3 linked regions of the Homo sapiens genome follow. The protein of the gene in region 1 purifies or fractionates together with the protein of each later gene. This does not show direct contact. Each region holds a gene or a part of one and is shown in the gene's direction. Other genes may lie near its edges.

The links.
Region 2: the proteins of PHYHIP (region 1) and LIMD1 purify together in Homo sapiens (affinity purification with mass spectrometry; 3 studies listed by BioGRID and IntAct, with this or other methods). This does not show direct contact.
Region 3: the proteins of PHYHIP (region 1) and KIF15 purify together in Homo sapiens (affinity purification with mass spectrometry; 3 studies listed by BioGRID and IntAct, with this or other methods). This does not show direct contact.

Annotation. Positions count from the first base shown.
Region 1 is NC_000008.11:22,221,016-22,226,544, reverse strand, and holds part of PHYHIP (phytanoyl-CoA hydroxylase-interacting protein), read left to right. Parts: intron 1-1,328; exon of another isoform or gene 1,329-2,103; intron 2,104-2,201; coding exon 2,202-2,319; intron 2,320-4,657; coding exon 4,658-5,192; 3' UTR 5,193-5,529. UniProt on the Homo sapiens protein: Its interaction with PHYH suggests a role in the development of the central system.
Region 2 is NC_000003.12:45,681,751-45,685,157, forward strand, and holds part of LIMD1 (LIM domain-containing protein 1), read left to right. Parts: 3' UTR 1-3,407. UniProt on the Homo sapiens protein: Adapter or scaffold protein which participates in the assembly of numerous protein complexes and is involved in several cellular processes such as cell fate determination, cytoskeletal organization, repression of gene transcription, cell-cell adhesion, cell differentiation, proliferation and migration.
Region 3 is NC_000003.12:44,768,294-44,772,655, forward strand, and holds part of KIF15 (kinesin-like protein KIF15), read left to right. Parts: intron 1-4,362. UniProt on the Homo sapiens protein: Plus-end directed kinesin-like motor enzyme involved in mitotic spindle assembly.

The DNA of each region.
Region 1 (5,529 bases):
GTGGTCAAAGGTGCATGACGTAAAATTTGCCGTCTCGACCATTTTGAAGTGTACAGTTCAGTGGTATTAAGTATATTCACATTGTTGTACAGCCAGTCTCCAGAACCTTTCTTCCTGGAAAACCAAAACTCTATACCCATTAAATAACCGCCCCCCATTTCCCTCTGCTAGCTACCATTCTACTTTCTGTTTCTATGAATATGACTCCTCTAGGTGTCTCATATCAGTACAATTGTATAGGATTTGTCTTTTTGTGACTGGAATATACCAAAATTTCCTTCCTTTTTGAAACTGGATAGTATTTCATTGTATGGATAGACCACATTTTGCTTAATCAATTATTTGTCAATGTGCACTTGGTGAGGCAATCACATTTCACTTGTTCTGAGCCTTCACGTAGCCTGGGAAAATGGCCCCTGGTCAATGGCCCCGCAAACTCTCTTAGCAGAACTTAACTTGTAGACTCCATCACAAACAAACAGTGGGCCTATGTGTGCTTGGTCCCTCACGACTCAGGGTCTGCCCCCACAAGATTACATTCTTTTGGTGTTCACGGTGAGAGCTGCTCCAGATCTCTCTGTCACACAGAAGAGACACGGAACATTCTCAGCCCCGGGCCTCTGAGGCTGCTGGCTCTATCCTTTGCCAAGATTTATGCCCCAAGTCTCCTTGAGCTGCTGTTGTCTTTTGAGTGGTGCTTTTTCTTTTTTTTCTCCTTCTGCCTTTTTTTTTTTTTTGAGATGGAATCTCGCTCTTGTCGCCTCCTGGCTGGAGTGCAGTGGCGTGATCTCGGCTCACTGCAATCTCCGCCTCCCGGGTTCAAGCGATTCTCCTGCCTCAGCCTCCTGAGTAGCTGGGATTACAGACGCCCACCACCATGCCTGGCTATTTTTTTTTTTTTTTTGTATTTTTAGTAGAGATGGGGTTTCACCATGTTGGCCAGGCTGATCTTGAACTCCTGACCTCAGGTGATCTGCCTGCCTTGGCCTCCCAAAGTGCTGCGATTACAGGCATAAGCCACCATCCCTGGCCTTTTTCATTTTTATTTTTTGAGACAGGGTCTTGCTCTGTTGCCCAGGTTGGAATGCAGTGGCATGATCATGGCTCACTGCAGCCTCAGCAACCTCCTCCCCACGAGCCCAAGCCATCCTCCCTCCTCAGCTTCCTGGCCTCCTGAGTAGCTGGAACTACAGGCACATGCCACCATTCCTGGCTAATTTTTGATATTTTTTTGTAGAGATGGAGTTTTTCCATGTTGGTCAGGCTAGTCTCAAACTCCTGGGCTCAAGTGATCCCAAAGTGCTGGGATCACAGGCGTGAACCACTGCTGCTGGTTGAGTGGTGTTTTTTCTTAGCTCTGCTGCAGAACCCCACTCTCTGGAGGCCTCTTGCTCCTGGTGGGGAAAGCTTCTTGGTTTACCCCTGAGACCTCCATGTGCAGTGGGCATTTAATTCAAATTGGAGATCTGGCTGCAATCCAGTCCACACTCCTCTCTCCAAACCAAGCACCCTGGCCAGGGATGCAGCCACAAAGAGGGAAGGGCATCTTCTAATTTGTACCAAGGAGCTGTATGTGCCAGCAGCAGCCTTGCTGGGGCCCCAGGGTTCAATGTTGCTATCCTGTTTCCAGCCTTCCCTGTTTCTCCTGAGATGCTCAAGCTGAGAGCCATTGCTCCAGACCCAGGACTGCCTAAACATTGCCTGGGCTCAGTTCTCCCTAGACCCTCACGAGCCGTCACCTGTAATTACAGCTGGCTTCCATGGGGGTGGTGTGGGCAGCCTCCTATCTACTGTATTTGAGAGACTTTCCCAAAAGGACCTCAAGCCCTCCCGTCTCAAGTCTTCCTTTTTCCCAGGGGTCCTCTTTTCACATGAGGATGGCCTGGGATCACAGCCCCTGAGGACCCTGGCAGGATAACTGGGCAGCCCTCTGCCTTTTTCTGACCCGGAGAGCCCGGAGCCTCTGGCAATGTGGTTGCAGAGGTGATGACGACAGACAGTATGCAGCGCTCTGTGTTTCCAGCAGAGGCCAGCTGGCCTGTTCCCATCTGAGTTTAAGGTTCTGCGACTGTCTAGTCTCCCCTGCTGCTCTGGCGGACAGAGGTTGGCCGGCACACACAGTGTGGGGTGGGGTGGGGACAGGAGGTGTTTGTGCTCCTCAGCTGGCCCTCGGCTCACCTACCGCATCTGGGATCTTGCAGATTATGCCAAGGAGCACCTGGCTCAGCTTCAGGAGAAAGCTGAGCAGATCGCAGGCCGCATGCTCCGCTTCTCCGTCTTCTACCGCAACCATCACAAGGAGTACTTCCAGCATGCCAGGTATGGGCGCGGGCTCCCGGCTGGACCCGCCGGGCCTCTCCTCCCTCCCAGCCCTTCCTGCTCCTGTCCTGGCTGTCTGAGGTCACCCCCACCCTCGTGGCTGCCAGTCCCTCCTCTAGGGTTGACATGTCCTGACGTCACCAGGCTGGCTCTGAAGAGACTGCTACTTTGGGGATTGGGCTCAGGGAAGATCAAGGGCTCTGGGGACAGGGCCTTCTGCAAGAGTGTTGTACTAATGAGCCTGGGAGAATGAGGTCTGGGTTTGCTCCCACTCTGGGACAGTTCCTTTCACAGGGGTCTACCACCACAGGTCTCTCCGATTCAGGCCCTGGGGCCAAAGGGAAGGTGGCAGGGAGTGCACAAAATGAGTGTTCTGATCACAAAGGGTTCGAGGAAGCACCCAGCTCGTCGGTTTTCAAACTGGGTGCTCCCTCCAGGGAGACATGTCAGTGAACCCCTTAGAATGCTGCCATGGGGTTGGGGGGACCAGAGGTTGAGGCTTGGTGGGCCCCACACCTGACCTCCAGTCAGAGTAGCCTCAATTTTATTTGCCTGTGACCCTTCCACGTATAATTTCTTTTGGGGATAAAAAGAGAGTTGCTGCAGTCCAAAAGTGTTTGAAAATTGGTGATCTGATCCAACACCCTCAGCCTACAGAAGAGGAGCCTGAGGCCCAGAGGGAAGCACTTGTTCATTCGAGCCAGGGAGTCACTTGTTACTGAGGACAGCCAGGACCAGGCAATGTGAGGCAGGACCAGGAGTACCCACCATCCCCGGGCCTGCTGGCAAGTGCTCCAAGGCCGCATCCTTCTGAGGCTCAGCCAGGGCAAGCAGCTGCTCTGCCTTTTTTTTTTTTTTTTTTTTTGAGATGGCGTCTTCTCTGTCACCCAGGCTGGAGTGCAGGGGCGCGATCTCTGCTCACTACAACCTCTGCCTTCTGGGTTAAAATGATTCTCCTGCCTCAGCCTCTTGAGTAGCTGGGACCACAGGTATGCGCCACCATGCCCGGCTAATTTTTGTATTTTTAATGAAGTGGGGTTTCACCATGTTGGCCAGGCTGGTCTCAAACTCCTGACCTCAGGTGATCCGCCCACCTCGGCCTCCCAAGGTCCTGGGATTACAGGCATGAGCCACCACGCCCGGCCTCTGTCTGTCTTTATCCTTACAGTCAGGGCAGTTTTAACCTCAGGGCAGTGAGGACCTTGGGAGTCTTTGGGGTTTGTATTAAAGAAGCAAGGCCTGCTTGGTGGCTCAAGCCTGTAATCCTACCACGTTGGGAGGCCGAGATGGGATCTCTTGACCCCAAGAGTTCAAGACTAGCCTGAGCAACATAGTGAGACCCCAGCCTCTGCAAAAAATTTAAAGAATTAGCCGGGTGTGGATTGCTTGAGCCCAGGAGTTCGAGCTTGCAGTGAGCTGTGATTGCACCACTGCACTCCAGCCTGGAAAGCAAGTCAGTGGCCCAGTTTGGGCTCCTTTATCAGCGAGAGTGGGAGAGATAGAGAGCACTCATGGGTGCCAGGCACCTTACTTGGTGCCAGGATGTAAAGATAAAGGCACAGTTCACTCTTTTGAGAACCTCAGAATCCAGTCAGAGAGACAGTATGGAAAGATTTCATGTAAAAAGTACGTGTAATTGTTGAGCACAGTTCAGTGTCCTGGCCAGGTGAAGTGGCTCACACCTGCAATCCTAGCACTTTGGGAGGCTGAAGCAGGAGGATCACTTGAGGCCAGGAGTTCAAGTCCAGCCTGGGCAACATAGTGAGAAGATTGGGTGTCCTGCACATAGTAGGAAGCCAAAAATTTGTCAAGTGCAGGTGTCTGCTGTTCCTGGGAGGTTTTAGAGGGGAGCAGACGCTTGACTGAAGCTTGAAGGCTAATTAGAAGTTTGCCAAGCCAGACGGAGGAAGGTGGAGAGGGCAGTCAGTGCAGCAGAGGGAAGAGTCCTGCATAGGGGTCACGGAGGCAGGAGACTGTGTGTGCAGGGGGTGGGTAAGTGGATGGGGTGGCAGGAGGTGGGGAGTGGCAAGGAGACCACAGAGATCAGATCATGAGCCGCCGTGTTTTTCACACACACCCCATCAAAGGGTTTCAAGCTGGGGAGTGACAGCTTCATATCTCTTCTCTGAGAAGGAGTGGGCTGGTTGAATCCCTCTCCAGGGCCCTCCCTGCTCTTGCATTCTGGAATGTTCTATTTGCGACTAGTGGAGGCGGCTGGGGGAGGGCTGGGAGCTGGGCTGGCTTCCTCCCTCCTCGACCACACGCAGCAGCCAAGCCTCAGCCCGGCTCACCAGCCACATCTTCTCTTCCCTTTGGTGTGTCTCCCTGGGGTGGGCAGGACCCACTGCGGGAACATGCTGCAGCCTTACCTGAAGGACAACAGTGGCAGCCACGGCTCCCCCACCAGCGGTATGCTCCACGGGGTCTTCTTCAGCTGCAACACGGAGTTCAACACGGGCCAGCCCCCGCAGGACTCCCCCTACGGCCGCTGGCGCTTCCAGATCCCAGCTCAGCGCCTCTTCAATCCCAGCACCAACCTCTACTTTGCGGACTTCTACTGCATGTACACGGCCTACCACTACGCCATCCTGGTGCTGGCGCCCAAAGGCTCCCTGGGGGACCGCTTCTGCCGCGACCGCCTGCCCCTCCTGGACATTGCTTGCAACAAGTTCCTGACCTGCAGCGTGGAGGATGGGGAGCTGGTCTTCCGCCACGCCCAGGACCTCATCCTGGAGATCATCTACACTGAGCCCGTCGACCTGTCCCTGGGCACCCTGGGGGAGATCAGTGGGCACCAGCTCATGAGTCTGTCTACTGCCGATGCCAAGAAGGACCCCAGCTGCAAGACCTGCAACATCAGCGTGGGCCGCTAGGGACTCCTGGGGAGCTGGGGGGCGAGGGAGAGATGAGCGGAAGGTGGAGGTGGGTAGCCCAGGTTCAGGGAGCTGGCTTTCTCTCTCCTGCCCCCCTGCTCCCTCCACTCTGCCCAGCTGCCCTCCCCTCGCCCCTTGGCATTGGAGGCAACAGACGGTGGTCCTCTTGGTAAGTGTGGCCCACACCCAGCCTGGTGGACATGGAAAGGCTTCTCAGCCTCTGTAGTTGGCAGCTGGGCTGGACTTCTGGAGAACTTCCCCTTTCCTCTGGTTTCCTTGTCCTACTGTTCTTTGCCTCGTCCAGGTCTCTATCTCCCAAAGACCTGCCCACCTCCTG
Region 2 (3,407 bases), on another chromosome or scaffold:
TGGTGTCTATTCTTACCAGATGTATAAAAATGTGAGAGGCCTTGGAGAATCATATCCCAAGAATCAGCAGTTTCTTTTACTGGACCTTTAAGATTGAGACTTGTAAGGTCCTGATGCAGTGACTTGTAAGGTCACTTTGTCTCTCTTGTGAATGTTACTGTTTTTTCTCTTCTGAGGTTATGACCAAAGAATCCTCAAGGCGAGTGATCCTTCAGGTTTGAGACAGCCACATGCAGGAAGACAGGACTTGTAGAGTGTTGGGGCCAAGTGTGTGGTTAGAATCCTTGGGGTGGGGAAAGAGTTTGTTCTAGACTCCAGTGTAGTCCTTGTGGCTACCAGGTCTGACGTGCCAAGGACACGGGAAAGCTGGGAGTGAGGATACTCATAGTCATAGCACCTTACACCAGAATAAAAGTTTTTTTTTTCTTTTTAAGTGATGAGAGAATGGCTAGTCTGATTTTGCCAACATGGGCTGCTATTTGCTTAAGACCTTGATGGTATAAGGAGTGAAGATGCAATCAGGGTAAAAGGCGGTCTGGAGTTGTGGTGTGCTGGCAAACCAGCCCTCTGGGGCAAAAAATTAAAAAGCCTTGATATGGAGTGTTTGCTGATACCTATGATGTAAATATTCCCGCCATGGCCACTTTCCAGCTACCAGCAAGGCATCCTGGCACCAGGGATTGGGAGGAGATGGCATAGTCCTAAGAGTCAGCCTTGGGCATTGGGCCATGTGGGACTGGGCAGTGGGGTATCTGGTCTGGTTCTAAGTGCTGTGATGAAGCAGTAGCAGCTGTAATAGCTGGCATTTCCCGTGTGCTCATCACATAGCAGATGTTATTCCAAGGACTGTATGTTCTTTATCATCCCTCATTTGATAGACAAGACAACTGAGACACAAAAGGGTGAAATAAACAGTAAGTACTCCATCCCAGGCCATCTCATCCAGAGGGTGCTGTCTTGACCACTCTACTACTCTGGTTGATGGGAGGCAGTAAATTGTCCATCAGTATACTTCTTCATCAAAGCTACATAGTCAAAAAGCCACAGGAGGCTGTGAGGAGAAGCTCACTGCTGCTCTGTTGAAGTCTGTATTGGTTTCCTATGGCCACTCTTAACAAATTACCACAACCTCAGTGGCTTAAAACAACACAAATATATCATTCTGTCATCCTGGACACGAGCCAAAGGTTGTCGGCAGAAGCGAATTGCTTCCAGAGGTGCTATAGGGTGCTGCCCATTCCTTGCCCCTTTTCCGCTTCTAGAGGCTGCCCATTTTCCTTGGCTTGTGGCTGCATCATTCTGGCTGCTTCTATTGTCACACCTCCTCTCTGACCCTCCCTGCCTCCTTGTAAGGACACTTGGGATTACGCCCATCCAGATAATCTAGAATAATCTCCCATTTTGTGATTCTTAATAACATCTGCAAAGCCTCTTTTACCTTGCAGAATAAGATATTCACAGGTTCTGGTGAGGAGGACAGGGACATCTCTGAAGGGGAGGGAAGCAGGAGATAGGGTCTGGAGGCATGGAATTGGCTTCCTAAGGCCAATTCAGGCTGACTTCCTAGAACTAAGTCAAAAGGAAAACCCCAACTTTCCACGCTCAAGTAACAAAAGGACCAGAGGCTACTCCCTTTGCAACCTCCCCACCCCCAGCCCCTTTTCTGCATGGCAGGTGAAAAATTGAAAGTATCGCTAATTGATCCCCTCCCACAACCAATCAGACTGGTCTTAGGCCAAGTCTTCATTTGCCTAGGAGTATAACTTTGTAACTTCAGCCTCTGATTGGGCGTTTTACACAACCAGTCAGATGTTTGTATAGGGTGGTGTAACTTTGTAACTTTGCTTCAGCCTCTGATTGGTCCCCTCCCACAACCAATCAAACTGATCATGGACCTCTGCTTCATTTACATAGGGTGTACACCAAGTAACCAATGGGAAACCTCTAGAGGGTATTTAAATCCCAGAAAATTCTGTAACCGGGTTCTTGAGCTGCTTGGGCTGCTCCCACCCTGTGGAGCGTACTTTCGTTTTTCAATAAATCTCTTTTGTTGCTTCATTCTTTACTTGCTTTGTGCGTTTTGTCCATTTCTTTATCAAGACGCCAAGAACCTGGACACCCTCCACCGGTAACAGGAGGAGCATTAGTCAGCCTACCACAGACTCCAACGAACGTTTTTTGAGAGGAAATGAAAGAATATTCCTAAGTTATTGGGTGCCTTTTCTTCAGGAATCCCTGAAAGTGGGGGTTTGCAATTTTCCCTGGATTGAAAACAGAAATGCTTCCTACACAAACATGATTGAGACCTTGTACTCTAGGTGTAAAAAAACAGAGTAGGTCATACTCTGTGGGTTATGGTCAGAGAGATCTGGTTAGAAGTTCCCAGGTAGGCGACAGCCCTAGATGTGTGACACTTCTAGGAGAATCTCTGGCTATGTGGATACGTCCAGGTGTGTAAGGCAGCCTCAGGGACTGCCACCACTTGGTCACATACATGTCCCTCCAACTAATCCTAGCTCTCAAGGACAGGTGGTTCTGGGCCCTGTGTTGCCCATGAGACTTGGTCCACGGCAAGCCTGTGACGGAGTGAAAGTGAGGGGACACCCAATTTGAAAACTCGGCAGGAAGCCAGACTCCATGACATACAAATAGATCAAAGTGAATCGGCTCCGTTGTTTGGGGAAATACCTGAGGTTTGTTGTTTCGTGCCAAGAAGATTAACAACACGGACACACGTGGGTGGGTTAAGGAGCAGAAAGTTTAACAGGCAGAAAAAAGAGAACAGCTCCCCCATGCAGAGGGAGGAGGACTCCGAATGGATCTCCCCATTCCTGGCGGGAAGCAGACTGATATATAGAGGAGGGGGTTTGAAGAGGTGGTATTTGATTTACATAGAGCCCAAGGGATTGGTTTGACCAGGTGTGCCATTTACATAGCCCTCGAAGAAACTGGCCATTCCACCTTGATCTTTTATTATGCAGATAGGGTTTTTTACTTGGCCAGAGCCTTGACACCTGCACACATGGCAACAAACAGAAGGGAGGCGAAATCTTCCATATTGGATGCACCTGTCTTCCAGGTGCAGCTGCCGGCATTTATCTGTGCAAGCTTCTAGCTTGCTTATTTATGCTTGCAGCTTGACTTTTCAGGCTGCTTTCTGTTGGAAAAGAAATGGTTTTGGGGGCTGCTTTTTATTAAAAGAAAAGCCTTACCAAGGACTCCTGTACCCTATCTGCCTAAATTTTTTTTAACTACTATATTAAAAGGTCTGTAAGTGGGAGCTGGCCCTAAAAGTAGGTTGTAGAGATTATTTGGATGTGCCAACAAGCTTCATCTGCAGCTTGGACTGTCTCCATTGGAAGGCCTCTGGCAGATTTTGTAAAAAGTTATATAACAATTTTACTATA
Region 3 (4,362 bases), on another chromosome or scaffold:
AAAAAAAAAACCACTGATGCAAGATTTTTTGCTCCTTAGCTCAGCTAAAATCCAAGTTCGTGTTGCATGACCAGGAAAAATCAGGCACGCGGACACATCGAAAGATGAGGAGAGTGGAATTTATTAAAAGGAAGCTCTCAGTGAAAAAAAGTGTGATACACCAGCTGAAGAGGCCAGGCTTCTCCCCCTGCATAAGGTGCAAATTCCCAGTGGCTCCACTCCATTCTCCCAGGGCGCATGTGGGCCTTTAGTCTGAGCCACTCCACATTGATTTATTTTCCTTACTGCGCATGTGTTAAGGGACAGAATTTTTCAGTGACCCGGCAGGCGTTTGGCTGTCTCCTGTCTCTATCATTCCCCACTCTAAAGAAGTACATCTAACTGCCCTTAGAATAAAGATAAGGACAAAGACCAATCTTAACTGCTTCCTGCTGACAGGGGGTGCTGTGTTGGGAAAATGGCAGTCAGATTTCCCTAAGAGGCCAATCTAAAGGTTCCTGGCAAAAGGGACCATTATCTGAGGCTCCAGTTGCACGACTGGAGTTTGATGACCTGAAGGCGAGAAGAGACAAACTGAGTTATTAGAAAACATGTATCAAAACAAAACAAGGATGGGGTAAGGACAGAAGTCATGCCAGAAGTCATGCTCGAAAATCCCGAGGCCTTTTACTGGTTTGCACAGGGAGAGGGAGGCCAAAAGCCTGATTGTTAAAAGTTAAAAAAAATTTTTACCCTTTTGCTGGCTTGTCAGTCTTCGAGGTTCCCTTCCCCCAAGCCCAGTCCTAAGCTATTCTCAAGTTTAAGGTTTGGGAAATTAACTTTTCGCAGTTTAGAGGATGGATCCAAGGGGAGTGTGCTGTAGTAAGGAGACACAATTACCTATCTGTGAAGAGAGGACACAAGGGGAAAAGGAAAAAAGAAGGTGTTTTTTTCAAAGGAGTCCCAGGGGTTCAGGATGTATTCAAAAAGGCCACAGACTGAAGATGAATGGCAATCCATCAAGAAAGAGGGGAGCAGGTGTCCCTGGTTCCTTTCTCTTCCTAGTGAATACCCAGGGTAGGTGAGGGAGGGAGAAAGTGACGTGCCCCTTTTCATTTCTTCTGTCCTTATATCCCCAAGACCTGGGTGATCATCAAAGGGTGCCACCCATGAATGTCAAAGCGGCTTTCCCCCATGTTAACAGGGCTTACCCACGTACGCCCTATCTCCCCTGCTGTCAGTAGCCTTCAAGTTCTCTAGACCTCATTTATGTCGTGGATACTAGCATGATGTTTATCCATGAAACAGGAGGCTTGGCTTAATCGGCAGGAGTTAGTCATGCTCACCTGTGCTGTGCTTTTTAACTTCTGTTACCGTCTGCTTCTGGATCCCTCAGATCCAGTTTTTTTTTTCTTAGGGCTTTGACCTGAAGTTGGGAATTGAGTTTGGGACCAAAAATATGTCTCAGGGGTTGTATGGACTCCTTATCATAAGCTGAATGCTAAGGTGAAGCTGTGAAAGGGGTCCTCCTCCAAGGGAAAGAAAAGGATGCCCTGTGACACACCCAGATAACTGGTGGCTATAGTTATGTTTGCTAAGATTTGGGTGCATGGAGCTTGGCTTTGGTTAGCTCCCTTGGTCTTACTTTCCCAAAAAGGAAACCTCTGGATGACAGGCACTGTATTTATTCCCACCACCTAGCAGGATTTGCAGGATAATTGCTTAGAACTAGAATATTGATTCAGATTTTTACATTACCCATCCCCCTTTGTTCCTTCTGGGCTGTAGTTGGAGATCTCTGGTTGGATCACAGGCATAAGCAGGGTTAGTTTTTAAACGAACTAGGCAAAAAACTTGAAAACAACTAGTGGGTCTAGAATTTAATGATGATAAGTTTTTAAACATAATTTATCTCTCTCCAGTCCTCAGTTTTCTTAAAAACAAACCATGATAGGACTGAGTTGTTTGCAAAATAGACTTTGGTCTTATACTTGGCTTGATTCTTTGCATGAAGTGCAGCAAGAATACTTATTTTTACAGAGGGCTTTTAGATTGGCTTTGATGGAACTCTATTCCACAAGGAATCTCAGATAGGACTTTCTAAAGCTGAACCCAGCTGTGGGTTTTTACCCTCAAATACCTGTGAGTTGGGTAAACTCCTCTCTTCTTGAGGTCCCAAGAGCATAGGGTTCCTGGGCCTGTTAAAAAGTGACACTTCTTACTCACCGCAGATTAGGAACCCTGTACAGGGACTGTGTAGGCAAGGTATGAGGCCAGTTTTCCCAAGGAGCTTTTATCAGTTCTGCAAGTCAAGCTTGACTCCTTAAAAGGAAGCATACCCTTCCAGTCAAAGGCCTTGGTAAAACAACTAGTGTCTTCAGTTGTGTCCTGTTGCAAAGAAAATGGAATCTTATTGCACTGATGCAAACAAATATATTGTCATAAGTTAAGTATACTCACAACTAGTTTCCAAATTCTGGAGAAGCCAGGCAGAGAGAGAGAGACAAACATGCTCCAAATTTTGTTCACAGGAGTATACCTTACTCAATTATTAAAGGCTGTAAATAGTTCAAAATAAGTTTCCTTCACTCTGAAAAACAAAGCAAGGATTGGCAATGGTCCAAGCGAAAGTCAAAAAGATTACTTCAGTTTTGTATTCATTAAGTCCATCCAGTTAACTCTTGTTTTGCTTGATATTCATGAACATTTCAGCTCTTCATGAGTCCTGTTTGTTTTTTCTTTATTCTAATGTCTCAATCTCCAAAGTTATCAGAAACCTGCATTTGAGAGCACCTATGAAAGTTCTATGGCTGATTATAAACCATCTTTTGAAGAGGATGAAAACAAGACAACAATTGTCTGTGAATAACAAAATGTCCAGGGTAGTTAGAGTCAGAAACAGAATTGACAAATAAATTTGGTTATCTCTGTGGTTTATAATAACTTAACATAACAACCTTAATTGTGATTGATAGCATATACTCATGATGGGGCCCTAAGATAATTTCTGATGGCCTGGGACTCCTCGGAAAAAACAGAAAAGGCACCACAGATTCCATTTTTATGGCCAGACACTAGAATTTTAGGAATCCTTTACAATTTTGGAACATATATTAATATTATTCCCTAAAATATAACCTGAAGAAGATTAAACATTATTTTGGCAATCCCATGTACCTAAACATGTCAGGTAATCCTGTTTACCTCTCTTCTGGATGTGTCAGGGGCCCTCTGTAGCATCCAAAAGCCAGGTGTCAGGAAAGACAATTTTGAAACTGAAGTTTGATTTTGGGAAGCCTGTTGAATATGTTAGAGGTTTAAAACATTTGATTTTATGAAATAGAATTCCAGATTACCGTAAGTTATTTATTTTGTCAAAATGATGACTCAGAAATTTTAAAAAGCAAAAACCTTTTATAACCCTTTACAGATTTAGCTAAAGAGCAGATTGGTGCCTTAAGAGAACCTTGTTGTGCTTTTATTTCAATGCTCAATTTATGGAAAAGCCATATAATACCCTTTTGAATTTAATCAGTATGTTCACACAAGGAATTTTTTTTTGCAAGATCAATTTTTACAATCCTTCCACTACTTGTTTACACATTTAGCTTTATCTTATCTAATTCAAAACAGTCCTTTAACCCTAGGCAAAAATGTACATTTTGATGACATCTGCATTTTACCAATAATTTTTAAGGCTGTTTTTATTTCTCAAAGATTAAAGTCATGTGAACTAAAAGGTACCACAGCTCTTCTTTCCTTTAAAAAATATTTGATCTAAGTGCTTATTTTCCTTTAGGCCAATTAATTAGAACTCTTGTTTATAGAGATCACACACACAACACATACATAACTACACAGCCAGAAGAAGATCCAGTAGCTGTAAGATTTTCTGTTCACCAATTTCGTAACTGGACAATTAGCCTCTCAGTGGGGCCCTTTAAGAGCAGGGCTAGGAAAGCATGTAGTTTCTAGGGCCTAGTAAACAGGTATAGCTAGAAGACAAAAACAGATTTTGAGAGGGATCCATCCACCTCTAATTCCTGGGGCTCCATTAGGAAAACAAAGGTCTCTCCCAAAATGGAATCCATGGAGACTTTTCTATTTTTCCCAAGGAGTCTCAGGCCATCAGAAATTATCTTAGGGCCCCTCATGCATGCATTAAGAGGGGCAAGACAAAATGGAGAAAAAGAATTCAGTTGACTGAGAAAAAAACCTTTACCCAGCAAAATAAGATCTAAGAAGAGAAAAACATAAAGGTCTTTTAAATATACTTATAACTTGGATATCCACTTTCAATTAAGCTGAACGCTTTTTAAGAAAATCCTTTTGAGTCCCTTATTACCCGACATTAGCCATGCAAAGTGGCCAGTATTTCTGACT